Homo sapiens: one gene and its partners. The protein of the gene in region 1 interacts with the protein of each later gene in a pairwise test. Each region holds a gene or a part of one and is shown in the gene's direction. Other genes may lie near its edges.

The links.
Region 2: the proteins of ATXN7 (region 1) and NELL2 interact in a two-hybrid assay, tested with the Homo sapiens proteins (one study listed by BioGRID and IntAct).
Region 3: the proteins of ATXN7 (region 1) and CRIM1 interact in a two-hybrid assay, tested with the Homo sapiens proteins (one study listed by BioGRID and IntAct).
Region 4: the proteins of ATXN7 (region 1) and AGRN interact in a two-hybrid assay, tested with the Homo sapiens proteins (one study listed by BioGRID and IntAct).
Region 5: the proteins of ATXN7 (region 1) and MATN2 interact in a two-hybrid assay, tested with the Homo sapiens proteins (one study listed by BioGRID and IntAct).
Region 6: the proteins of ATXN7 (region 1) and EFEMP1 interact in a two-hybrid assay, tested with the Homo sapiens proteins (one study listed by BioGRID and IntAct).
Region 7: the proteins of ATXN7 (region 1) and JAG2 interact in a two-hybrid assay, tested with the Homo sapiens proteins (one study listed by BioGRID and IntAct).

What each region holds. Positions count from the first base shown.
Region 1 is NC_000003.12:63,866,867-63,870,366, forward strand, and holds part of ATXN7 (ataxin-7), read left to right. Parts: exon of another isoform or gene 1-47; intron 48-3,500. UniProt on the Homo sapiens protein: Acts as a component of the SAGA (aka STAGA) transcription coactivator-HAT complex. Mediates the interaction of SAGA complex with the CRX and is involved in CRX-dependent gene activation.
Region 2 is NC_000012.12:44,516,316-44,519,815, reverse strand, and holds part of NELL2 (protein kinase C-binding protein NELL2 isoform b precursor), read left to right. Parts: intron 1-3,500. UniProt on the Homo sapiens protein: Plays multiple roles in neural tissues, regulates neuronal proliferation, survival, differentiation, polarization, as well as axon guidance and synaptic functions.
Region 3 is NC_000002.12:36,439,278-36,442,777, forward strand, and holds part of CRIM1 (cysteine-rich motor neuron 1 protein precursor), read left to right. Parts: intron 1-1,980; coding exon 1,981-2,223; intron 2,224-3,337; coding exon 3,338-3,458; intron 3,459-3,500. UniProt on the Homo sapiens protein: May play a role in CNS development by interacting with growth factors implicated in motor neuron differentiation and survival. May play a role in capillary formation and maintenance during angiogenesis.
Region 4 is NC_000001.11:1,023,120-1,026,619, forward strand, and holds part of AGRN (agrin isoform 2 precursor), read left to right. Parts: intron 1-3,500. UniProt on the Homo sapiens protein: Isoform 1, isoform 4 and isoform 5: neuron-specific (z+) isoforms that contain C-terminal insertions of 8-19 AA are potent activators of AChR clustering.
Region 5 is NC_000008.11:98,026,064-98,029,563, forward strand, and holds part of MATN2 (matrilin-2 isoform a precursor), read left to right. Parts: intron 1-1,352; coding exon 1,353-1,766; intron 1,767-3,500.
Region 6 is NC_000002.12:55,868,625-55,871,782, reverse strand, and holds part of EFEMP1 (EGF-containing fibulin-like extracellular matrix protein 1 precursor), read left to right. Parts: intron 1-659; coding exon 660-783; intron 784-867; coding exon 868-1,063; intron 1,064-3,158. UniProt on the Homo sapiens protein: Binds EGFR, the EGF receptor, inducing EGFR autophosphorylation and the activation of downstream signaling pathways. May play a role in cell adhesion and migration. May function as a negative regulator of chondrocyte differentiation.
Region 7 is NC_000014.9:105,155,277-105,158,776, reverse strand, and holds part of JAG2 (protein jagged-2 isoform a precursor), read left to right. Parts: intron 1-1,013; coding exon 1,014-1,071; intron 1,072-2,787; coding exon 2,788-3,039; intron 3,040-3,154; coding exon 3,155-3,215; intron 3,216-3,500. UniProt on the Homo sapiens protein: Putative Notch ligand involved in the mediation of Notch signaling. Involved in limb development.

The sequences.
Region 1 (3,500 bases):
AAATGGAAGTAGCAGATTTTAAGAAAACTGATTCAGACTTTGAACTTGTATGACCTTATATTTATTGATTTATTTGAGTCATAAGATTTCTGGGTTTTTTTTTTTTTGAGAATATGAAAGACTAGTTAAGAAAATTTGTGTGTTTATTTGATATTTGCTTTCTGAAAATATAAAAAATTATGAGAGAGCTAGCTATATATGGTCTTTATTCTGGGTCTGTGAAATAATGTAAGGAATTTTGTACTATGCTTTTAGAGCAAGAGTTATCCTGGGGGTCTGTGACCCTCCAAGGGTTGGTTTCAAGGGATTCCTGAACTCCCTGTAGTTGTGACCAGAACTTTTTGTGTATGTGTATTTTTCTGGAAGAGGGTCTGTAGTTGTTTTAGAAAAGAGATCCAGGACTTAAAAAAATTAGAGACACATCTTTTTATTGAATAAAATGGAAGTTAGAATTCTTTTCTTTTCTTTCTTCTTTTTTCCTTTTTCTTTTGAAACAGGGTCTCACTTTGTTGCCCAGTCTGGAATGCAATTGCATGAAACTGGCTCACTGCATCCTTGACCTCCTGGGCTCAAGTGATCCTCCTGCCACAGCCTCCCAGAGTGCTGGGATTACAGTCATGAGCCATCACAGAATGACCATTCTAAAGAGAAAAAAACATTTTTGAAAAGTAGATCTGTGTGCTCGTTACTTGCCTTTTAAAGTTATCTTCAGGCTGGGCACAGTGGCTTATGCCTGTAATCCCAGCACTTTGAGAGGCCAAGGCGGGTGGATCATTTGAGGTAGGCCGAGGCGGGTGGATCATTTGAGGTCAGAAATTCAAGAGCAGCCTGGCCAACATGGTGAAACCCCATCTCTACCAAAAATACAAAAAAAATTATCTAGGCGTGGTGGTGTGGCCTGTAATCCCAGCTACTCAGGAGGCTGAGGCAGGAGAATCACTTGAACCCAGGAGGCTGAGGTTGCAGTGAGCCGAGATCACTACACTCTAGCCTGGGCAACAGAGTAAGACACTGAAATAAATAAATAAATAACAAACAAATAAATAAATAAAGTTGTCTTCAGACTTAGAGGTGTAAAAGCACTTCCATTTTATTCCCACAACAAAGCATTGCCTATCAGTTGATAAGCCAAGCTGGTCTGACGTGCTAGTCCTGCATGTACTGTGGCTGTGTTTTTAAAAAATTATATCTAAAAATTCAGACCAGATCGTTTGATGGTAGATAAGCAAAGATTTGATCTTGACACCAGCCGTTGGAGTAAATGGGTCTTTCAGCTCCACTCTCTTCTCTCCAGAAAATTTGAAATTTGACTCAAAGGGAATCATTGTAAGAAAATGTGTTTGTGCCTTGGCAGGACAGTAGAACATGATGGGAAAAACACAGTTTGAGTCAAAATAGACTTAAAATTCAAATTTGGTTTCCTTTATTCACTGTAGCTACTTACCCTGCTTGACTCTTCAGTTACTCATCTGGATATGGCTAACTAGTAGAGTTGTTGGGAGGCTAGCTAGAAGTTTCCCGTATAAAAGTCTTAGCTCCTCTTTGGCCCGCAAGAAGGACTTACAAGCCAGGTTTGGGGAACCATTAATAAACATCTGAGGAAACATGTATATTCATGGTATAGGATAATAAGTACATTATTTCCAAATTGGTGTGATGAAGATATTAACACTTAAAACATTGTTTTTTAAGAAAAAGATTTTCAAAAATGAGTTAGGATTGAGTGGTCCCCAAATATAGATATTTAGAGGAAAGTGGAAAATGATGGTTTATTTGGCAGAGGGGAGGACATGGATGCTGCTGGGCAGGAAGAAATGATAGCCACCCACCAGCATTATATTTCTCTCTGTGGGCAAGATTCCATTTAACATTTTCTCTTCACTTATAATCTGAATTAAAAAACTAAAATACTGCACATGTACTTTATAGTCCATCACCCCTAAAAGTGCTTCAGCACTCCTTTCGTTTTGAGACCTTCACAGGTAACCCAGGGACTTCATGGGTGGAAGTTACACTTATAACTTTAGTTGTCTAATTCTGCTGTCTTTAAAATGCCTTCACAGTTGGGTACCTGTGTTGATTTTTGTCAATAGGAAAGGGTCTGGCAGGACTGAATCATATTTTACTTTAAATGCTGAAGTAAGAGAGGGCATTATGAGTCAAAAGAAAGTGTGAGATACGTAAATAAAATACTGTATAATGCTTATGGCCATAAAAATAAACTTGCTTCTACTATTTCTATAGTCTTAACCTTTCCTGTCATTTATTCGTGGTGATCATTTATGCTTTCTGCCCTTGGGTTGGGAAATGGTTATGAACACAGCCTTTAGGCTTTGAATATGGCCTTGATTCTCATTTCCTGAGCTCTCTGGTTGTGTTCAACTTGGTCCAGTCTCCTTCTTTGAGTCTAGAGGAGATGACCATTAAATGGGATAATAAATGCAAAAAAGTTTTGCTTACTCCTAGGCTCCTAGTAAGTACTCAGAAAGTGGTAGCCATTTTGAAGACAGTTACATTCTCATCTTTAGAAGGAGATATCATACATCTTTTTCTTTTCTTTTCTTTTTGTTTTTTTTTGAGACAGAGGCTCATTGTTGCCAAGGCTGGAGTGCAGTGGCATGATCTTGGCTCACTGCAACTCCTGCCTCCCAGGGTTCAAGCTATTCTCGTGCCTCAGCCTCCCTAGTAGCTGGGATTACAGGCATGTGCCACTACGCCCAGCTCATTTTTGTATTTTTAGTAGAGATGGGGTTTCGCCATGCTGGCCAGGCTGATCCTGAGCTCCTGACCTCAGGTGATCCACCTGCCTCGGCCTCCCAAAGTGCTGGGATTACAGCTGTGAGCTACCGCACCCTGCTAGAGATACTATACATCCTTTTAAAGAGAATACCTTTATTCATCCTTATTCCCACTTAGACCTTCTGGAACCATCTTACTTTCAACTCAGAAAAGCCTTTTACATTTTCTTGTTATGATAGGCAGGTATCCCAACATCTTGATGACCTATTGGACTTCTCCATTGTTCTTAGCCAATGGGGTTGCATTCTCTATTGGCCTGGCAGGTTATATCAAAATCTTGGATATGTCAGGGGCCAAACCAACAAGCCTGCACAGGTTTGGAGCTGTGATCCATCAAACAACTGTGTGATTTTATAGCCTGGAACAGAGATCAGCAAATTTTCTGTAAAGGACCATATAGTAAATATTGTTTACTTTGCCAGCCATCCAGGTCTCTACACCTACTCAGCTCTGCCATGATAGCAGGAAAACACTCATAGATATAAATGAATGGGTATGACTGTGTTCCAAGAAATGTTGATGAACACTGACATTTGAATTTCATGCAATTTTTATGTGTCACGTCATATTTTATTTTTTCAACCATTTAAAAATGTGAAAGTCATTCTTAGCTCCTGTTATATACAAATCTTAGCTAGATTTGGTCCATGGGCCATAATTTGCAGAATCCTTGCCTAGAATATTAGATGCATAGATTTGTG
Region 2 (3,500 bases), on another chromosome or scaffold:
TTCAAGGATAGTGCATGGACTAAAACCAGAATGATCCGTTATTTATATCACCAACATAGAAACAAGCTACTTAAATTGTCCTAGATATCTAACCGTACACATCTTTTAAAAAAGCTGAAACAACAAACCTCATGTTTCTTCTTTCATGATAGGAGACAATATTGTTTTATTGATTTTTAGCTGGTTCTTTTACAAGGTCCGTAAGATACATAAGTGAAGTAGATTTATTACATTTTCCAAAGTGGAAATCAATATGGCAAAGATGGGCATATTTCTTGGTTTGTTGTGGTCAGTTACATTGAGTTGAAACATTTAAGATCTGTTTTTTACCATATTTTATTCATACAGTTGGAGAAAAACCATTACAAAGCTCTTTCTCCTTATTCTCATTGGAAAATAGAGCTCTGTGCCTTTTGCTTCAATGAGAGCACAAATACAATGAATATAGGCAGAGCATATAGAGTTTGTAGATTAGTGACAATGTTGGAAGCATTCTAATTTGATTATTATTTCTACAAAAATTTAATTTTGTGGCCATTATGCTTTATAGTCATAATTTTGTAATCAACACTAAAACTAAATAAATAACCTGAAGGCTTAACAGTAACAACTAAATAGCAGACGTGTCAGATTTTTCTCAGCATAACATAGCCAGATATCTGTAACTGCTCTGATTTTTTTAAGTGAGCATTTCCATTTTGTAATTTTTTTCCTACAGAGCAATTTAATTCAGATTCACTTACTACAAATTCTTACCAGAGTAGATTGAAGTAACAGGACAAAGAAATATAAAATGCTTTAAGCTTTGAGATGCCATTTTTATCTATTTCAAGCTCAAATTTCTAGTTCTTTCAATCAATGCAATTTGTCAATCAAGCAAAGCTTTTTGAGTGAACATTTACTGCTGTTTTATGAAATGCATTAGCAAATTTAAAAGTTACTATTACTAAAAGTTACTAATAATGTATATGCGATGTTCCTTTAATATACATTTAATATGTGTATACTTAATAGTGCATATCTTGAAACTTAGCACTAATGACTAACAGGGAAATACTTTCTGTCATTTAATTACCAAATAGAGTTGAGTCCTCTTACACCCTTAATCTTTCTGTGAGATTATTCTTCTGAGCAATAGTGACAAAAATATATATTGAGTGATGGACAAAAATGAAATATAGCACAGATGGATATTTCCAGTAAGAAAAATGCATACAGTAATAGGCAGGAAAACAACTCAGACTGTTTTCTGGGGTAAAGAATTTGAATGAGGCCGGGCACGGTGGCTCACGCCTGTAATCCCAGCATTTTGGGAGGCTGAGGTGGGCGGATCACAAGGTCAGGAGATCGAGACCATCCTGGCTAACACGGTGAAACCCCGTCTCTACTAAAAAATACAAAAAATTAGCCAGGCATGGTGGTGGGTGCCTGTAGTCCCAGCTACTCAGGAGGCTGAGGTAGGAGAATGGCGTGAACCCGGGAGGTGGAGCTTGCAGTGAGCTGAGATTGTGCCACTGCCCTCCAGCCTGGGCAACAGAGCGAGACTCCATCTCAGAAAAAAAAAAAAAAAGTATTTGAATGAGTTTGTCATTCACTACCTTATAAACAACTACTATAATCTCTCAGCTTTTGATAGGAATATATTCCAGAAAGTGTATTTTGATATTAAAGTCATTTCTTTCTGTCAGATAAGTACTGATTCATAGAAGTTACTATTAAATACTATTTTCTTTATCTCTTGTTATTAAATATGAGTCATAAAAATATGCTCAGTTTTGTCAAATTTATCTCAAGTACTCATTTTTATTACATTTATTTTGTGTTATTTTGAAAATAAAGTTTATGCAAAACAAGCTTCAAGTATTGCATTAGAGGTAAGCATTCTTCACAATTTAGTGCTTTGAAAGCACTATTTTATTTATTATGTCTCCATTCTACTCCCCTCTGAGTTATTTGTTTCTAATTGATAAATACACACCGTGTGGGGCATTGTGCTGGTACCAGGTGTATAATGATAAGCAAAACCAGACACAGTCACCCTTGGAAATTATTCTCTATCAGCTTATTATCTGGCACTCTGTTGTTCAATATGCTAGTCAGTAGCCACATGTGGCTATTTAAATTTTAATTAATTAAAATTAAATAATATGAAAATTTTAATTTATTAGTTACACTAGCCACATTTCAACTGCACAATAGCCACATGTGGCTACTGGCTGTCATATTAGATAGCACACTGTGTAAGGCCATTCTTGCATTGCTATAAAGAAATACTTGAGCTTGGGTAATTTACAAAGAAAAGGGGTTTAATTGGCTTACAGTTCTGCAGGGTCTATAGGAAACAGTACCATGGTCTGCTTCGGGGAAGGCATTTCACATGGCAAGAGTGGGAACGAGAGAGAGAGAGAGAGAGAGAGAGAGAGAGAGAGAGAGAGAGAGAGAGAAAGTAGTTGGTGGGTAGGTACCAGACATTTGTAAATGTTGCCTTTATCTATCAAAAACTACAAACTTGAAGTTGTGCCAGTGGACCTCTGTTCTAACATTAGAATAGATAACTCGATCTAAGGAAAAAATACCTATAAATAAGCAATATTATAATAAAGCTTTTAATATATGATCAGGACTTTGCAGATCAATGGAGGAAGAAAACATTATTTCACAAATAATGGAATGACTAAATAACAATTTGAGGGAAATAACACACAGTTATAAAAATTATGTTACATATCAAAACAAATTCCACATGGAAAAAGTGTTAAATATTAAAATAAATTAAAATAAAGAAAATATAATTAAATATTTATCAAAACTCTAGAAGGGAGATACTTTTTAAAATTTATCAGTGATAAAATATACCTGAAAGAAAAGATTAGTGCTTCTATAGATACATAAAATTAGCAAAAAAAAAAAAAAAGTCACAACTACATACTAGAAAAACAGCTTCAGCAGATTTGGTTTCTTTGTTAGATTAAAAACATAAACATTAATAAGAAAAGCACTTACTGCTGGGTGCAGAGGCTCATACCTATAATCCCAACTGCTCAGAAGGCCCACTTGAGCCTAGGCGTTCAAGGCTGCAGTCAGCCATGATCATGCCACTGCACTCCACCTTGGGTGACAAAGTAAGACCTTGCCTCTAAAACTTTTTTGGAAAGCAATTATTTCCCCCATAAATAAATCTGCAAAGGATAAATAAACAACTCACTAAAAAAGTACACCTACTAAAATAAAAGAGGAAATCATTGAGCCTTTAAATAATTGAACCTTAATTGTAAACTAAAATTATAAATAATTATTTTCACATACTATAGTAAAAAAGTTTCTCCTAATAATTTCTAATGCTGACAGAGATATACTGGAATTATTATTTTTGTGCACTGTTAATATCATTAAAAAATACACAATGCAACACATACTATCCGCACCCCCATATACACACACAAATATATTGTTCTCTTTAATCCCAGGTCTGAGAATCTAACCTAAAGAAATAATCAAAG
Region 3 (3,500 bases), on another chromosome or scaffold:
ATTCTTTCTTGCCAAGTGCCTTTCCAACCTCCTCCCACGTCTCCTTCCTCCCCAGATATTGTGTGCCTTCCTGTTGTTGCCCAGGTTCCCAAAGTCCTATCTTTCTAAGAAGGGACCTGTTTTTCTGAATTATTCTCTTCCTCTTTCTATATAATCAAATCTCTAATTTGTCCCATAGTGAACGGTACAGTCTTGAAAATGGCATAAGGGGTTCTAAATCGCCAGGTACCCCTGCTGCTCATCCAACCTCATCTCCTGTTTGTCCTCTCACTGTGCCTCAGCCACACTGACGTTCTTACTCTTCCTGGGACACACAAGCCTGCGTCAGCAGTTCCTTCTGCTGGGATGCTCTTCTCCAAAGTATCTCCGTGGCTCGTCCCCTCACTCCTTCAAGTCTTTGTTCAGCCGTAAACTTCTCAATCATGCCCATCCATTCTCACCACATTGTAACTGCTACCCACTTCTTCTAAGCATTCCAATTCCCTCTTACTCTGTTCTTGTTTTCCCCTCATAGCACATATCACCCTTTACTACTATATAATTTGCTTCTTTATAATGTTTGTTACTTATGTTCTGTCATCCTCCACCACCATATCAACTAACAAGGTCAGGAACCTGTGTCTTTCCTCTTTACTGACATATCCCAAGCTGCTGAAGCAACAGGTGCTCAGTCAATGTTTCAGTGAATTTACTAGAACTATAAGTATGAAGAGTCTCCTATATTATGTCTTAGGTAGACAAGAAATAGATAAGGAAGAGGAAAGATACAGCAATCAAGGTAGAAAATGACTAGAGGAACAGGCATGGTTTTAAAAAGAGATCCACTGCTATGATATCAAGACCTGAGTGGACTGGAATGAGGTGACCTGGATTCTTGCTTTAAGTTTACCAATGACCTTAGCCAGGTCACTTAAGCTCTGGGGCCTCAGACGTTCTTTATCTACAAAATGAGAAAACTAAACTAGGTGACCTTTTGGGTCTTATCCTACTACCCAATTCTGTGTTTGGGTTTTACTTTAGGAAGACCAATTAACACTTACGGAAACATTGCCTGGTACTAACTGGCATCAATTTCACCTAATGTCTCCTGAACTCCCCATCTCCCACCAAAGGTCCTGGGCTGGGATGATGTCTTTTAGTCTATTTCCATCTTTTCCTCAAGGGCCTTATGTTCGTATAGGTCTCTTAAAACTCAACCCAAGAAGCTAAACTGTGGACTGGGGTTTCAGAAGCCAGGGCTTTGCTCCTCCATCGTAAAATCTGAGTAAACCCACATTGTTTTATTTTTCGCATCTCTAAAATTGAGATACAGCAATGGGTCGGCAGATAATATTAGACAGAGGGGAATAAGGTGCATTTGATGGAGCTCTGCTAGAAATAGAAGCACATCAGGTGCCATTTCAGGAAATTACACGGGAATTTGGCTCATTATCCATCTTGCTAAGCTGCCACATCGTAAAGTCACAGACTATTAATAGAATACCATTGATAACTCAGAGTGTGCAGGTAGAGTTCCTCCATGTTGATTGTCGTACACATTGTCTCCAGTTTCTGAAGTAGCCATGATTTGTTTGTGTTTTAAGGTACACTGTTTTCAAAGAACAGCCTTTAAAGCTCTTTTGAATTCAAAGATCTTTCAGTTACTCAAGGAATGGGTCCAGTTTTCAGATTCTCCACGCCATGGGTGCATCTTCCCTTCAGCTTTCTTCATTTTGGTCATTGCTCCAGATGTTCATTGTTTAACACAAGTGGGTAGGGAGACGGAGAAGAAGGGAATTTCAGGCTCATATTTTGGTGTCATGGGCAGATCTTGGGTGAGGTTTTCATTGTTAGTTAAACTAAGTTTGAAGGTTTACACTGAATTTCTTTCCCTACCGTCCTCTTTGGCTACTTAAATAGATCATCAGGACTGTTTGTTCTTCTGTTGAAAGTGCCCCACACTGCCCTGGGCATAAGCTAAATTCTTTCTCTCCCTTTTAGAAGAGAAGCCAGATTGCTCCAAGGCCCGCTGTGAAGTCCAGTTCTCTCCACGTTGTCCTGAAGATTCTGTTCTGATCGAGGGTTATGCTCCTCCTGGGGAGTGCTGTCCCTTACCCAGCCGCTGCGTGTGCAACCCCGCAGGCTGTCTGCGCAAAGTCTGCCAGCCGGGAAACCTGAACATACTAGTGTCAAAAGCCTCAGGGAAGCCGGGAGAGTGCTGTGACCTCTATGAGTGCAAACCAGGTATGCACGAGCTCTGTCTCAGCAGCCTTGTTCCTTTGCATCAGAGGGTAGCAGATCCCTCCTCAGCCACCCCTGGCCTCTCCTTTCACACGAAGATGGGCCTTCTCACCGGTGTCCTGTGAATCTGCCACTTTGGGCTAATGGCAGCTTGACTTCTGGCCTTCTAGTCAGAGAACCAGAGTGATCATCCACTGGTACATAAGCGCCTTCGGAGAGCGAGCGTGTCTTTTCCTCTTTTCTTCTTTTTTTCCTTCAAAGTATGCTTGACTGGGGAGGTAGGGTTAAAATTTATGGTACTATGGCAATCTGCTTCATTTCCCCAGAGAAGGTCAGAGACCTTATTTGCAGCTATATCTGCCACTTTGAATTATTACATTTAAAAACAATCATCATACGTAAAACAGAAAGTTATTTTTAGATGAATACATGCATCAAAACGCCAGAAGTTTCATAATGCAACACTCAGCCCCAATCTTTCTCTTTGCCAATTCCCCCGCATCTGCCCTCTTTACTTTATAGCATGTGCCAAGTCATCTTTGACTGTTTACTCACCCTCTTTGCCAACATTTGATGTACTGTTGTATCCCAGCTGTTTCTTGCTTTATATTATTTCTAACATCCTTGCTCTTGTGGCAGCATTTCCGATGTGGTCTGTGAACACTTCTGAGTTATAGCGATTTCCTCTTTGCAAGTTTCTAATCATCGGCCAGTTGTTTTTTTGTTTGGGTTTTTCTTTTTCTTTCTTTCTTTTTTTTTTTTAACTGCTAGATAAACGCTCCAAGCAAAGTGATCCTTTGTCCGTCTCTTGAACTATTCTATCAATCAGAAATGCCTCTGGCTAACTGTCACTATCCATGTAACCACTGCTGGTTTAATTCTTTCTCTGTCTTCATTGTAGCTCTTAAATATCTCATCCCCACCTCTTTCCTTACACAGAAAATTTGAGGAATATTGCAGTTCTATAGCATTAACTGGAGTAACATGTCGACACTAGGACTGGGTTTGTGGAAGCAAGGAGACTTTGGACATTTGTCAAGAGCTAGTATTTCATTTAGGGACTCCAAAAGCAAGTAAATATAACAATAAACGGTGCCTCTCTGTTTGCCCCTTTCAGTTTTCGGCGTGGACTGCAGGACTGTGGAATGCCCTCCTGTTCAGCAGACCGCGTGTCCCCCGGACAGCTATGAAACTCAAGTCAGACTAACTGCAGATGGTTGCTGTACTTTGCCAACAAGGTTAGTTTGCCATTAGTTTGTCAAGTTTTCTCCTCATTTGTT
Region 4 (3,500 bases), on another chromosome or scaffold:
CATCCTGTCTGCTCCCTCATGGCTGCCTGGGAAGGGATGTGTCGGTGGGGGGGTCTGGAGAGTGCTTCCTCCTCAAGGCAACGGTAAGGGTCCTGACTTCCCGTCTCTCCGATCTGCTCCGTTGGCCGGCAGGAAACTTTGCTGCCCTGACACTAGCCTGGCTCTTGAGGGGTCCTTGTGGGGTCCTGGACTGTCCACTGCTCTTGCCTTCTCTGTGCATGCCTGGGGGCTATGCAGGGGGAGGGGCAGCACCCAAAATAAGGAACGCTGCGGCCTTTTCCCCAGCCTGTGGTCAGTGGTCCCCAAGCTGCCTTCAGGGTCCAGGGCCTCAGTGCAGCACAGAGGAGGGTCCCCTGGGTCCCCCACTGGGAGGACATGATAACCTTGGTCCTCTTCTGGGCACTCATGGTCTGGGGAAAAGATGGGGGCATCGTGGACTCAGGATAGGCTGTCAGGAGCTGAGGAGGGGCTGGAGAAGGGGGTTAGGGCGAGGAGAGGTTCCTGTCCCTGCAAGATCAGGAGAGGGGGTCACTAACCCCACAGCCAGGTGGGTCCAGCCCGAGAGTCCGTGACTTAGTAGCTGAGGACTTGCTCTAGGGTCAGAGGGCACATGGCAGGAGAGTCACCCCGGCTGAACGAGGCTCTGCATCTTACCGAAGCCGCTCTACGGGTGCCAGGCACTGGCTCTGGAGCGAGTGCCCAGGCGGAGCAGAGCGCTGGGAGGAGGGTCCGTGGGGAGCCCCTGCCAGGTGGGTGTGGCTTAGCCCAGCTGTGGGCAGTCGCACTCAGGGACGAGCTCCAGGTGGGGAGCCTGGGACCCACAGCCAGTATGCAGCTTGGGGAGCACCCGGGAGGGGCTGTGGCCACCGGACCCCCTGGGGTGGGGCTGGCCAGGGGAGGGTTAGCCAGGGAGGACTGTCATGGGAGGGGCCTTGCAGGTGAGCCAGGGGCCAAGGGGAGCCTCAGGAGGGAAACAGCATGAGGAGTGGGGGAGCCCAGGAGCTTCCGGTGGGACATGTGGAGCTCTGCTGTGGAAGTAGACCAGGGATATCTCGGGTGGCTGGGGTCCCTGGCTGCCGGGACAGGGTAAATGCCTCCCAGAAGCCTGGGGTGAGCCCTGAGGGACAAGGTCTCTGGAGCCAGTCTGGCTGGAGAAGGGACAATTCTGTGTGCCCACCCCTCCCCTCACACTGGGTGGTGTGGGAGGTGGGTCCATCTCCTGCTCTGTAGGAGATAAGGACATTGAACCCCACCCTGGGCCCTCTGGTAGCCAAGGCCTCACCCTAGTGAGGGGGATGGATGGAGGGAGCTTGAGCCTAGCTGACCTCTCCCCATCTGACTCCGACCCCACCTCCCAGGGCACAGGATGGCGTCTGGGCAGCCCCTAGTCTTCAGAAGCTACCCCTGAGACCACAGGGTCCCACCTTGTATGGGAACCCCATCCTGGAGACAAAGGCCCCTCCGAGCTCCCCAGGTCGGGGAGGGCCACGCCCCTCACCACCCCTGCCCGGACACCGCCTGAGGTGCACCTGCTGCTGGGCCACACCTGGACTCAGCTCTACTGAGGACTTCCTTTCCTCAGTTTCTCACCTGGCCCTGCCAGATCTTCCTGGCCCTGCCCAGCCAAGGCCCCTCCCCCAGTCAACAACCCTCAGAAAGGCTCCTCCCCCCTTCTCTGCCTAGGGAGCCACATTCCTGGCATAACTAAGACAGGTATGTGTCCCTCCCTCTGCGCCACCTTTGGGCGGGGGAGGCCCGCTGCTCCCTCCGGAAGGAGACCCCCGCCCCTGCTTTGTCAGGGAAGTGGCCTGGCCTCCGCAGTGCCAGCTGCCCAGGGCTGGCGGCTGAGCGGGCGACTCCTCCGGCCCTCGCCACCCTGTCCTGTCTGGGCACTGCCCATGCCCTCCCAGCCCACCTCACAAAGGCTGGTCCTAGAGCCTCCCTGAAGCCCCCAGGAGGGACTCCTGGCTGAGGGCCGGCCAGGCCGCCCGGGGCCCATCCCTCCCTGCTAGGAGCCAGGAGCAGAGAAAGGGAGTGTTGTCTGCCCCTGCCGGGGCCTGGCACAGGGACAGGGCAGGGGGCCAGGGTCAGAGTGAGTCTGGCGCCTTCCCAGCCCGGCCCTGCCCAGCTCTGAAGCCCGGGGTCCCGGCGGCCTAGTCCCGGGCCCGCCTGTATTCCGGCGTGTGCACCCTCCCTTCCTCCCTGCCTGGCCAGCTGCCTAGGCCTCAGGACGGCAGTCCTAGGGGAAGCCCAGAGTCCCACGGCACCGGGGACAGCATCGGTGCTGGGGTTGAGGGGCCCGACAGCCCCAGACCAGGCTCCCCTCAGTGTGGGGCAGTCTAGGAGTTGGGGGAGGTTTCTGGGATGCAGGAGGACCTCCCATAGGGCTGGGGCCAGCCCCCTCTCCTGCCCAGGGCTCAGCTCCTGCCCCCAACTCCTCCGCATTCCTGCCACCCTCTCCTGCCCCCTCCTGACTCCAGGTTCTCATCCTGCCCCCTGGTTCCCCCACCCCCACCCCATGAGCCCCTCTCTGGCCCTCCCCCAGGCAGGTCTGGGCTCGAGGCTGCTGCCCCAATCTCCCTCCTGCAGCTGGGAGGGGGTCTGCCGGGTGGGAGGGCGGAGGGCCTACCTCTGTCCCTCCCCACTCACCTCTGTGTCTCCCCACCCAGGGGCTCCTGGTAGGAAGTTGGGGCCCCACCTCTGTTTCTCCTGGAGCTGGGAGGGGGGTCTGCCGGGTGAAGGGCCCACCTCTGTCCATCCCAACCCCGGGGCTCCTGGTGGGAAGTCGGGGCTCGGTGCTTCCCGCCTGCGTGAATGGACTTGTCCCGTCTTTGACTTCTCCTGGGCTTGCCCCTGCCTTGGCCTGGGGGGGGGCTTTGCTGGCTGAAACCAAAGGGAGTGAGGTGGTGGGAGGGGTAGGGGAATCGGGTTGGTCAGTTCTGTGGAGATGACCTCTTTGAGAGGGCCGGGCTGAGCTGGTGGAAGGAACTCTTGGCTTTTTCCAGACCCCACCCCACTCCCTCACTCCCCACCCAGAGAACAGCCCTGGCTCCATTGTTCCTGCAGACTAGAGAGGGAAGGTTGTTTTGGAACTGGGCTCGCTCCCGCTTGTCCACACTGGCCGCTCTGGTGGGGCCTCTGTGGGTGGTGGTGGGGATGGCACCTGCTGCAGCCTCCAGGCCAAGGTAGGGGAGAAGGAGGTTAGGGTGAGGACAGGTTCCTGTCCCTGCAAGATCAGGAGAGGGAATCATTAGCCCCACAGCCTGCAGAAGGCGGGATGGGGCTGCTCCAGGGAAGGGGGTGCCCGTGCCTCGGGGCCACAGGTCCGGCCAGAGGTCATTCCAGCCAGGCCCATGCAGCTTCCTTCCTGAAGGGCTGACTCTGCCCCCATCACTGCAGGAGGGTGGAAAACAACTGCAGAAGCAGACGCCCCACGCCCAGGGCTTTGCTTCCACCTGTGGGACCCAGGTCCACAGCCCCACCAGCGGCCTGGGTGGGGC
Region 5 (3,500 bases), on another chromosome or scaffold:
GGCTACTTGGGAGGTTGAGGCAGGAGAATCACTTGAACCCAGGAAGTGGAGGTTGCAGTGAGCCAAGATCACACCATTGCACTTCAGCCTGGGTAACAGAGCAAGACTCAATCTCAAAAAAAAAAAAAAAAAAAAAATGCCTGAAAAGCTTCCATGTAAAGAATTTATGGTGATAACTTTTTTTTTAATTTTGTTTTTTTTTTTTTTACGGAGAGATGCAGGGTCTTGCTCTGTCACCCAGACTGAAGTGCAGCGGCACAATCATAGCTTACTGCAACCTGTAATTCTTGGGCTCCGGTAATCTTTCTGCCTCAGCCTCCCAAGTAGCTAGGGCTACAGGCATGCACTACCATGCCCAGCTAATTTTTCTTTTTTTAAGAAAGACAGTCACTCTGTTACCCAGGGTGTTCTTGAACTCCTGTGCTCAAGCCATCCTCCTGCCTCAGCCTCCCAATGCACTGGGGATTATAGGCGTGAGCCACTGCACTAAGGCTAATTATTTTGTAAGCTTTAATAGGTCAGTAGGGTACTTACAGGTGTGCTACCCAATGAACATCACCTCATTCACTTAGTCTGTCACCACACATTTACTGAACACTTTTTTTGTGCCAAGTATTGGGGGGTGGGGCACAAAAATGAATGAAACACAGTCCCTGCTGAGGAGGAACTCACAGACTGGAGGAGGAAACACATCATTAAATAATTATTGTACAATGTGGAACACTATATAGAGTACATTAGATTGTATGCAGCTTGGTGTTAGGGATTGTGTCTTGGTCACTATTGCAATCCTGCTATGCCCATGGCCTTGTACAAAGCAGGTCCTCAATAAATTTTTGGTTGAATAAATTAGTAGTGTTTGGGGTATATAGAAAGCAATACAAGCTGAGTTACTAGGAAGGCTCCCCAGCAGAGGTGATGGCTGAGCTGAAGAAATCTCTTTCTCCATTGACTGTCAGAATGCCAGCACTAGGGTGATGTCACCCTCCTAAAGTTCTAGGAGTCTTTTGGGTATTGTTAGACCCTTCAGTGTACTCTACACCCAGCTCCTCCCAGACCTGTCAGTGTTCCAGGGTACAATGTAGACTTGGTTTCCTAGACAATTGTATATCTGCCGTTTTGCTTGTGAAAAATACTATTTTTATCAATATGACAAGCCAACCATAAAAGTATACGTGAAAATTATTGTTGCTTGTGGCCCTCCCAACAACTCATCTATCCTGTGTATTATCTAAAGAACAAAACTGGTTCCCCAAAGTGGTTATGCCTCCAATTGAAGCATCATTTTATTCTACTCTTGTGCATAAATGATTTTTTATTCAACTATGTCAACTTTCCTTCTGTTCATATAGAATGCACTGAAGGCCCAATTGACCTGGTCTTTGTGATCGATGGATCCAAGAGTCTTGGAGAAGAGAATTTTGAGGTCGTGAAGCAGTTTGTCACTGGAATTATAGATTCCTTGACAATTTCCCCCAAAGCCGCTCGAGTGGGGCTGCTCCAGTATTCCACACAGGTCCACACAGAGTTCACTCTGAGAAACTTCAACTCAGCCAAAGACATGAAAAAAGCCGTGGCCCACATGAAATACATGGGAAAGGGCTCTATGACTGGGCTGGCCCTGAAACACATGTTTGAGAGAAGTTTTACCCAAGGAGAAGGGGCCAGGCCCCTTTCCACAAGGGTGCCCAGAGCAGCCATTGTGTTCACCGACGGACGGGCTCAGGATGACGTCTCCGAGTGGGCCAGTAAAGCCAAGGCCAATGGTAATATGGGGTGGAGGTGCGGTTTACACCACTCAAGGTTCAGGTTTCTTAAACTCACTCAGTGGTCTCAGCTGGCCATAAGGGTAAGCTTCTTTGAGTGTACAGAAAGGCCTCCTGGCAACTGCCATTATACATCTTTACTACCCTGCCACCTAGAAGCCTTAACAGGACCCCACAGGAGTTAAATAAAGTGCTCAGGAAGGAGTCTGGCTACTAGAAGGGTAGGCTAAGCTGACCACAGGCGGGTATCCTCTCACTGTGATTTACTAGCCAGTGTGTGATCTCCAGTGTAAGAATCGCCTAGATATACACAATAGTTCCGAAACACTGGTCGGCTTGCTCTAGAATCAACTGAAGACTTTGTTAAATTGTTTCTGATGGGAACTTTTACTGTGTATATTTATTCTTGTATTTTTTAACCAATACTTCAAGCGAGCATTCTGAAAATGCAATAGCCCCTAGGGTGGATAATACTCTTGTGTTTCCAGGAGGCAAAGTTAGCTTTTCCGAAAATCAAATGATGGAACAGATTATGACTCTAAGCTCTTGTTGCTCAGTAAAGCCCAGCCTCTTCTCTGAGGTTTTCCTGACCTGAGGGTTACTTCAGTTGTACAGATGTGAAGCGTGCTCGAGGAGTATGACCCTTGGCTAAAGGAAACCCAAAAGGTAGGATAATTGGTAGAGACAGTTTATGGTGAAGTTTCTAGATTCCTTGAGGGAGATAAGAAAACTTGAGGTTGTGAACTAGTTTGCTTGAAAACTGCTTTTTTTTTTTGAGATGGAGGCTTGCTCTGTCACCGAGGCTGGAGTGCAGTGGCGCGATGTCAGCTCACTGCAAGCTCCGCCTCCCAGGTTCACGCTATTCTCCTGCCTCGGCCTCCTGAGTATTGGGTACTACAGGCGCCCGCCACCACGCCCAGCTAATTTTTTTGTATTTTTAGTGGAGATGGGGTTTCACCGTGTTAGCCAGGATGGTCTCGATCTCCTGACCTCATGATCCACCCACCTCAGCCTCCCAAAGTGCTAGGATTATAGGCGTGAGCCACTGTGCCCAGCCGAAAACTGCCTTCTTAAAGTACTTGTTGAGGACACACTGCTTTAGCAAGTCCTGTAAGAGGAAATAAGGTATGCACAGATCAAGGCCTCATCTAAGACTTTATGGACCCAGTGCCTAGATCAGGCCTGGCACACAGTAGATGTGTGACAACTACTTGCTGAGTGAATGAAGAAAGAAGTGAGAGTACTGGCAGTCCCATTGGTGAACTCCATTCCTCCTCACAGAAAGGCTGGTTCACATCGACATTCACTCGCTGTCTTTGTGAAGGAGGTCATTTTATTGATACTGCGTACCTTCCTCTTTTTCTAGCCCAAGAGTGGTAGCCACAAAGTGTCCTGCCCTGAATCATCTGGATAGATTGTAAAACTGGCTGTTCACACTAGCCTAGATTGCTAGAGCTCATGTCAAACTCATAGGCCCCCTAGTCTGCATTCTTAAAAAGAATTAATTAGGGGAAGCATCTTAGTCTCCAGAGACAGTGGTTAGCCCTTTCATCTCACTGAGACTAATCTACCTTACCCTTTGCTCCACTCAAATGTCTCTACACATCACACAAAGACAGGTGGTAGCAGAAACTGATGTTTACTTGATTCTTGAATCAACAAGATTTATATGAGGTGACATCCTCTTATGAATTTAACTAGTCTTATGTATAGCAAACAGAATCTTAAAATAGT
Region 6 (3,158 bases), on another chromosome or scaffold:
GTATAATCCACTCCCAGCATGCTTCAGCTTACTGAAACCAGATTTCTAGCCTTTACCTTTCTCCCAAGTTCCTGAAAGAGATGATAAGCTGCCCTCCATAGTTTATGCTTCCTGATTTCTCAGCTTGGAAAGCCTTCCCTGCCCCAGCCATGAAAACTCCATCTAACCACCACCCTTCAAGGCCACGTTGAGATGCCTCTTCCTTCCTTCAGCCTTCCCTAATCCCCCTGGCAAAATTACCCAACTCTGCTCCACATGCCCCAGTATACTTATCTATCTCTTACTTAATTCCATTTTACTTTCTAAGTAATCATATACACATTCCCTCAATTATAATGTCCCTGATGACAAGAACTGGTGTTTAACTTTTATATAGGCAGAGTCAGTGGTTAACATTGGGGTTTGAATTCAACAGATGAACAATAGGTGCTTGATAAAATATCATGAAATGACACATATTAATCTGCCTAGAATGTCTCAGCTCTGTCTGTCCTGAATTCAATACAATGAACACCCAGTCTTGTGTCTAAAAGCAGGTTGAACACAGTCCAGATGCTCTCACACCTCCTTCCTTGCAAACAGAATCTGCCAGTTATATGATTTAATTAGATCAGTTCATTAGTTTAGTTAGTAAACTCTTTGACCCTACATCTCTACAGATATAAATGAGTGTGAGACCACAAATGAATGCCGGGAGGATGAAATGTGTTGGAATTATCATGGCGGCTTCCGTTGTTATCCACGAAATCCTTGTCAAGATCCCTACATTCTAACACCAGAGAAGTAAGAAAAATCAGAACTTTTGAAAGTGAGGATTTTCTGGTCTTACCAAGCCAAACTGCTGAATACTTTTGTTTGTCTCTGCAGCCGATGTGTTTGCCCAGTCTCAAATGCCATGTGCCGAGAACTGCCCCAGTCAATAGTCTACAAATACATGAGCATCCGATCTGATAGGTCTGTGCCATCAGACATCTTCCAGATACAGGCCACAACTATTTATGCCAACACCATCAATACTTTTCGGATTAAATCTGGAAATGAAAATGGAGAGTTCTACCTACGAGTAAGTATCCTGAAGGCAGCCTTAACTATTGAGAAAGATGGGAGTTTGTTGTTGTTGTTGTTGTTGTTGTTGTTGTGTGGTATCCACATGTGGAAGGAAAGCAAACATTTAAAGTGTCTTATGTGTAGGCATTGTGTAAGGCCTTCCAGCTACATTATTTCATTTATTCCTCTTGGTAACACTGCCAGATAGATATTAATATTCATCTCCATTTTTTACAGAGGAGAAAAGTGAGATGCAGAAAGATTAAGTAGCATCCCTGAAATCACTCAAATATTAAGTTTGGCAGACTCTGATAGAGTTGTGTGTGACCACGAAAATACAAGCCTCCCATCCCCCCGCCTCTGCCCCCACCCAACATACCCCCCAAGTAGGTATCACTAATCATTGATGGTTAATTAATTATACATAGACATACATATAATTCAAACCCAAAATAATTCCTGGAGCTCCTAAAGAGTTTTTCAGACATCATGAATTCATCATTGTTACATTCACAAGACAGTTTGTGTTCACACCGAAACTAAAACCTATAAGTATGTGAGAAGTGACCCCACCTCCCCGCACAGTATGTGTCAGTAGTTGTACCATTCTTGCCAACTTCTGGGCTGGCAGTATGGAGTCATCTCCCTATCTTTCATTGCCTGTGTGAAATCTACTTTCTGAATTCTGCCATTTCCCTCTTCACACTGTCTCCTGGGTTATCTTTGCTTCCTCACATCCCTATCTCTCTTCCTATAAACTGGCTCCCGTCACTTCCATGATCCCTTCAGTGGCTTCTGAGCTGGTCTCCCTGACCCCAAAGCCTCAGCCTTCCAGTCTCCCTACAAAATCTCAGCAAGTTCATTTTAGGTTAAAATTTGGACATATTTTAAATACGGCTCACCACTTCATGTGAAAATGATGGCACCCTACCAAGCAGTTTGCAGAGTTACGGTAACTGTTTCATGCTAATGATGTTATTCATCCAGTTACAATTTTCTCAAAACTCCTTTGGGCACTCTTTATTTTTAATCAAATTTTAAAGCCAATATTTCATTTTGAGAATATGAATTAAATTGGGAAATTCATCCTTGTGGTACAGTTTACAGATTTTTAATGTTTACCCATTTATCCTGTTTTTTGATATATTAATTTCCCATATAGCTCCAGAGTTATGTGATATTATTTCTTTGCCAGTATATTAGAAAATGATTAATTTCTCATGACCAACTTCTGAAAAGAAAGACCCAATGCAAAATGCAATCTATTACAATTATTTTTTTGAATAAAAAAGAATATATTATAGTTCTTTAACATTTGATATTTTAAATTTGACATATTCTTGATATTTGTAAGAAATTTCCACTGAATGAATTTTACACAATTCAGATACTACCAATTAACTAATTCTAGCCTAAACAAATAACATTATTTTTAAATAACAAAATCTTTAAAAATAATTTTCTATTTTGAACTTTTAGCCATAATGTAAGAAAATAAAATTTTCTAGCAGAATAATCAAAGAGTGAAACAAAGTTCCAACATGTTTTTTCTTTGCAATTAAACATGGCACTTTTACAGTTATTTATTATTCATATCAGTGCACTTACCGACTTCATATTTTCAAATCAAAATACAGTGTTTTTCTCCAGTGAAATCCTTATTCTCATGACTGATAGAAAACATTGCCAATTTTGATATTTCCAGAGTTAATGTTAAATTATTTGAAAGAAAATTATTTAAAATAATAAAAATAGACATTTCAAGACTATTTCTTATCACATAATTCAAAAAGTACTTGGATCAAATCCTACAGAGTTTCTCCACTAAAATTCTACTTGTGCAGAGGGCATTGAAACGCATGAAAATCAACAGCAGGTTAGTTAGGTTAATTAATTCGGTTAATTAAGCACCTACTACATGCTCAGCTCTATGCTAGGTGTCATGAGGAATTAAAAGGACATGTAATGCACATTTTCTGATTTCAAGGAGCTTTAAATATTATTGTGTAGAAAAAGTTAACATCTATGAAAATAGAAGTGGGGCAATTTTGTGCTTAATTCCATGGTCCAGATACATCAAAAAATCAATGTGGGCTGTCAAAGAAGGTTTC
Region 7 (3,500 bases), on another chromosome or scaffold:
GCCCCAGCCCCCTCCTCTGGGCCCCACCTGGAAGGAGCCAGGGCTGGGCTCAGGGGTCAAGAGCACACCAGGGGTAGACTGGGGGGTTCCTGGGCAGTGAGGGCTGAGAGGCTGTGGAATGTGGGTACCCAGTGCTGGGTAGTACAGGGCATGTCCCGGGGGTCCCACCTGTCTGAGCATGTCTGTGAGTGACGGTCTCCGTGGGCTGCACTAGGCGGAGCAGGGGGCCAGCCCTGTGGTCTCTTTGCTTGGCTGACAGCATCGCCTGTCGCCATGGCTGGGGTACAAGGGCCAGGTGGCCCGGGGGCAGAGGGGGCATAGTGGCCATGGTCTGAGGCTGTGCTGGGCAGTCCCAGGACCTCTTGGCCTCAGTTTCCCCAACTGTACCGCAAGGGCCCCTCCTGCCACCTGTTCTGTGTGAGGGTGGAGGTAGGTGTGGGTTTGCCTGTGTGCTGTATGCCTGCAGGACCTGAGCTCCGGCCTGTTGGGGCCTCTGGCTGGGCGCCCTGTACTTGGCCACCCCGTGCACTTGGTGGAGGCCGCCAGCGTGGTGATGGGGCCCCACGTTCTCCCCCGTGGTCACCCCCAGTGAGGCACCAAGGGGCGTTCCACAGGAAACGCTCGGGTCCCGGCTGCCCATGGGGCCCCTGTCTGTGGCCACTCCAGCCAGGCTGCCCTTTGCCCACCTCTCCCCCCGGTCGCTCTTCCTGTGCTCCGTGCTGACTTGAGCCAGCTCAGGGCAGGCTGGGCCTCTGGCACCCCAACGGTAGGGAGCCCAGGCCCCTGAGCCCGCGTGGCCTGGAGGGGCAGTCTCCCTCCCTTGAGCTGGGTCATTTTTGGGTCTGCAGAGGATGTGGCCTGAGGATGAGGAGGGTGGTGGGTCCCTGGCTGGGGAGGAAGGGCCAGAGCCTGGCAGACCCAGGGGCAGCGTCTGAGCCCTGGGCCTTGTCCCACCCTGAACGAGGCAGGCAGGTGTGGCCTCAGGTACCTGACCCGCCTCCCCATGTCTGCAGCGCTCCTTTACCCTCATCGTGGAGGCCTGGGACTGGGACAACGATACCACCCCGAATGGTGAGTGAGCCCTGGGCCAGGTGGCAGCTCCTCTCAGCTTCAGCGTGCCTGTGGCAGGGCCCAGCTCCTCTGTCTGCTTGGGACAAAGCCTTGCTTTACCCTGAGGATCATGTGTGCTGTTTCCCTTTTTGCTTTGGCTGCCAGGAAGCTCTGCCACGTTTGGGACTTGCAGAGCTGTGCATGCACTCTCTTCCCCAGTCCTGGCTTTGCCTATGTTGTTCTCCTCTTGGGTGTGCTCTTTTGGGGCCCATGGCAGTGACTTAGTGGAGGGGACACCCTTGAGTGTGTCTCTGGCTTTGTGGCCCCCTCTGCTTGTCTGTACTGGAGCATGGAGCCTTGGTGGCCCTCTCCCTGAGGCAGGGGCTCTGCAGGGCCCTGCAGGGGTAACGGGATGACTTCCATGGGTGAATGCAGAAGCACCCACAGGCCAAGGGAGCAGCTCGTGTGAAGGTCTGGGCAGGAGCGGGCTGGCTGTGCAGGGGGAGCAGCCGGGGCTGGGCTCAGATCATGGAGGCTGGCAAGCCACTGAGAGGACACGGGCTCCGCCTGGCAAGCTGTGGCTGCCTTATGGAGGGTGGGCTGTGGGGCCAGGACACAGACCGAGGAGGAGCTGCCACGTGAATCTGGGCGTGTCAGGGTGACTTGGACCAGGGGCAGTCTGGGGGTGAGAGGGGCTCTCAGAAGTGGAGGCATGGGGTTGGCCAATGGGTTGGAGGAGGGAGAGCGGGGCCAGGGCATCCTGGCTGCCAGCAGAGTGGAGGGGCTGTTTTCAGGGCAGGGACGGCGGTGGGGGTGCCCAGGTGGGGAGCAGCAGTTGTGGGGACCCCAGCGGCTCAGGGCAGGGGTGTTTCCTGAGGGGGTGGCAGAGAGACAGGTGGGCTGAGTCCCAAGCAAGGTCGTCAGGGCTCTTGACAACGTGAGCCTGGAGAGGCTGGGGCGGCCGGGACGCCCCTTGGGGAGTGGGCCAGCACAGTGTCCTCCCAGGCCTTGGCCCGAGGCGGGAGAGGTGGGGTCTGGAGGACCCGTTCACCTTTTATTGTGCAAAACGTCGAGCCTGTGCCTAAGCGCAGGGACCGGCATCACGGACTTTGCATACCAGCGCCAGCAGCTGTGGTGCCCCTGGCCCCTGGTCTCCTGGTGGCTTACTTAAAGTGAGGCTTAGACAGCGGGTCACGGGACCTATGCCTGTCTTGGGGGCCTGAGGGGAGGCTTGTCTTAAGGTGGGGACGGTAGTGGTGTTTGGCACTTCTGGGAGCAAGTCACAGCGCAGGAGAGGGGAGGGCAACTGAGCACCATGTCCGTGCTGTCGAGGGCTGGACACGGCGCAGGTGGGTGCAGGTGTTGGAGCAGGGCTGCAGGTGGGTGGGCACAGGTGTGGGACGTGAGACTCACGCCCTGGCAGCAGCCGTGCCTTCTCTGTGGAGCCTGTGGTCTCAGCAGCCCTCCCTGCAGGGCCCCTAGCCCCTAGCCGGGCCCCCCGACCCTCTGCGTTTAGGGTGGGAGCGGGGCGCAGGCTTGGTGGCGGGAGGGAGAGGCCTCTCGGGGCCCTGAGCTTTCTGTAGCAGCCTGGCCGGGGGCCCTGCCCTCCGTGTGCTGCTGCCTGCTGTGCCCCGGCCTTGCAGCAGCCGCAGGCTTCTGCCCCGTCCCCGTTGTTCCTGGAGGACCCCTGGCCGGGCTGGTTTCTCTGGCCTGTGCTGACTCTGCCGCCTCCCCAAGAGGAGCTGCTGATCGAGCGAGTGTCGCATGCCGGCATGATCAACCCGGAGGACCGCTGGAAGAGCCTGCACTTCAGCGGCCACGTGGCGCACCTGGAGCTGCAGATCCGCGTGCGCTGCGACGAGAACTACTACAGCGCCACTTGCAACAAGTTCTGCCGGCCCCGCAACGACTTTTTCGGCCACTACACCTGCGACCAGTACGGCAACAAGGCCTGCATGGACGGCTGGATGGGCAAGGAGTGCAAGGAAGGTGAGGGGGCCGCTGGGCTGCGTGGAGGGCAGGGAGGGCCTCGGGCAGGGCCCCGGGCACAGGCCTTGCGGCCAGGCTGGCTGCAGCTGTGCCTCTCGCTCCTCTCTGTTCGCAGCTGTGTGTAAACAAGGGTGTAATTTGCTCCACGGGGGATGCACCGTGCCTGGGGAGTGCAGGTGAGTGTGCCGCCGGCCCGTCTTTGCCCTCCCAACCTTTGCCCTCACGTCCTCACTGGCACACACAGCCTTGCTGTCAGGAGTCGCCCGGAGCTGGCTGGAGGTTGGGCACACAGCTGTGAGAGCCGGGCCCTGAGCTCGGGAGGCTCCTTAGTGCAGTAGGTGCGTGTCTGAGCATGGGATGTGTCTGATGGCGGCAGCCATGTGAGGACAGTGAGGAGAGACTGGGGAGGCTGGCTGGACAGTCACGTCACCGAGGGGCAGAGACCCGGAGGCTGCAAGCCA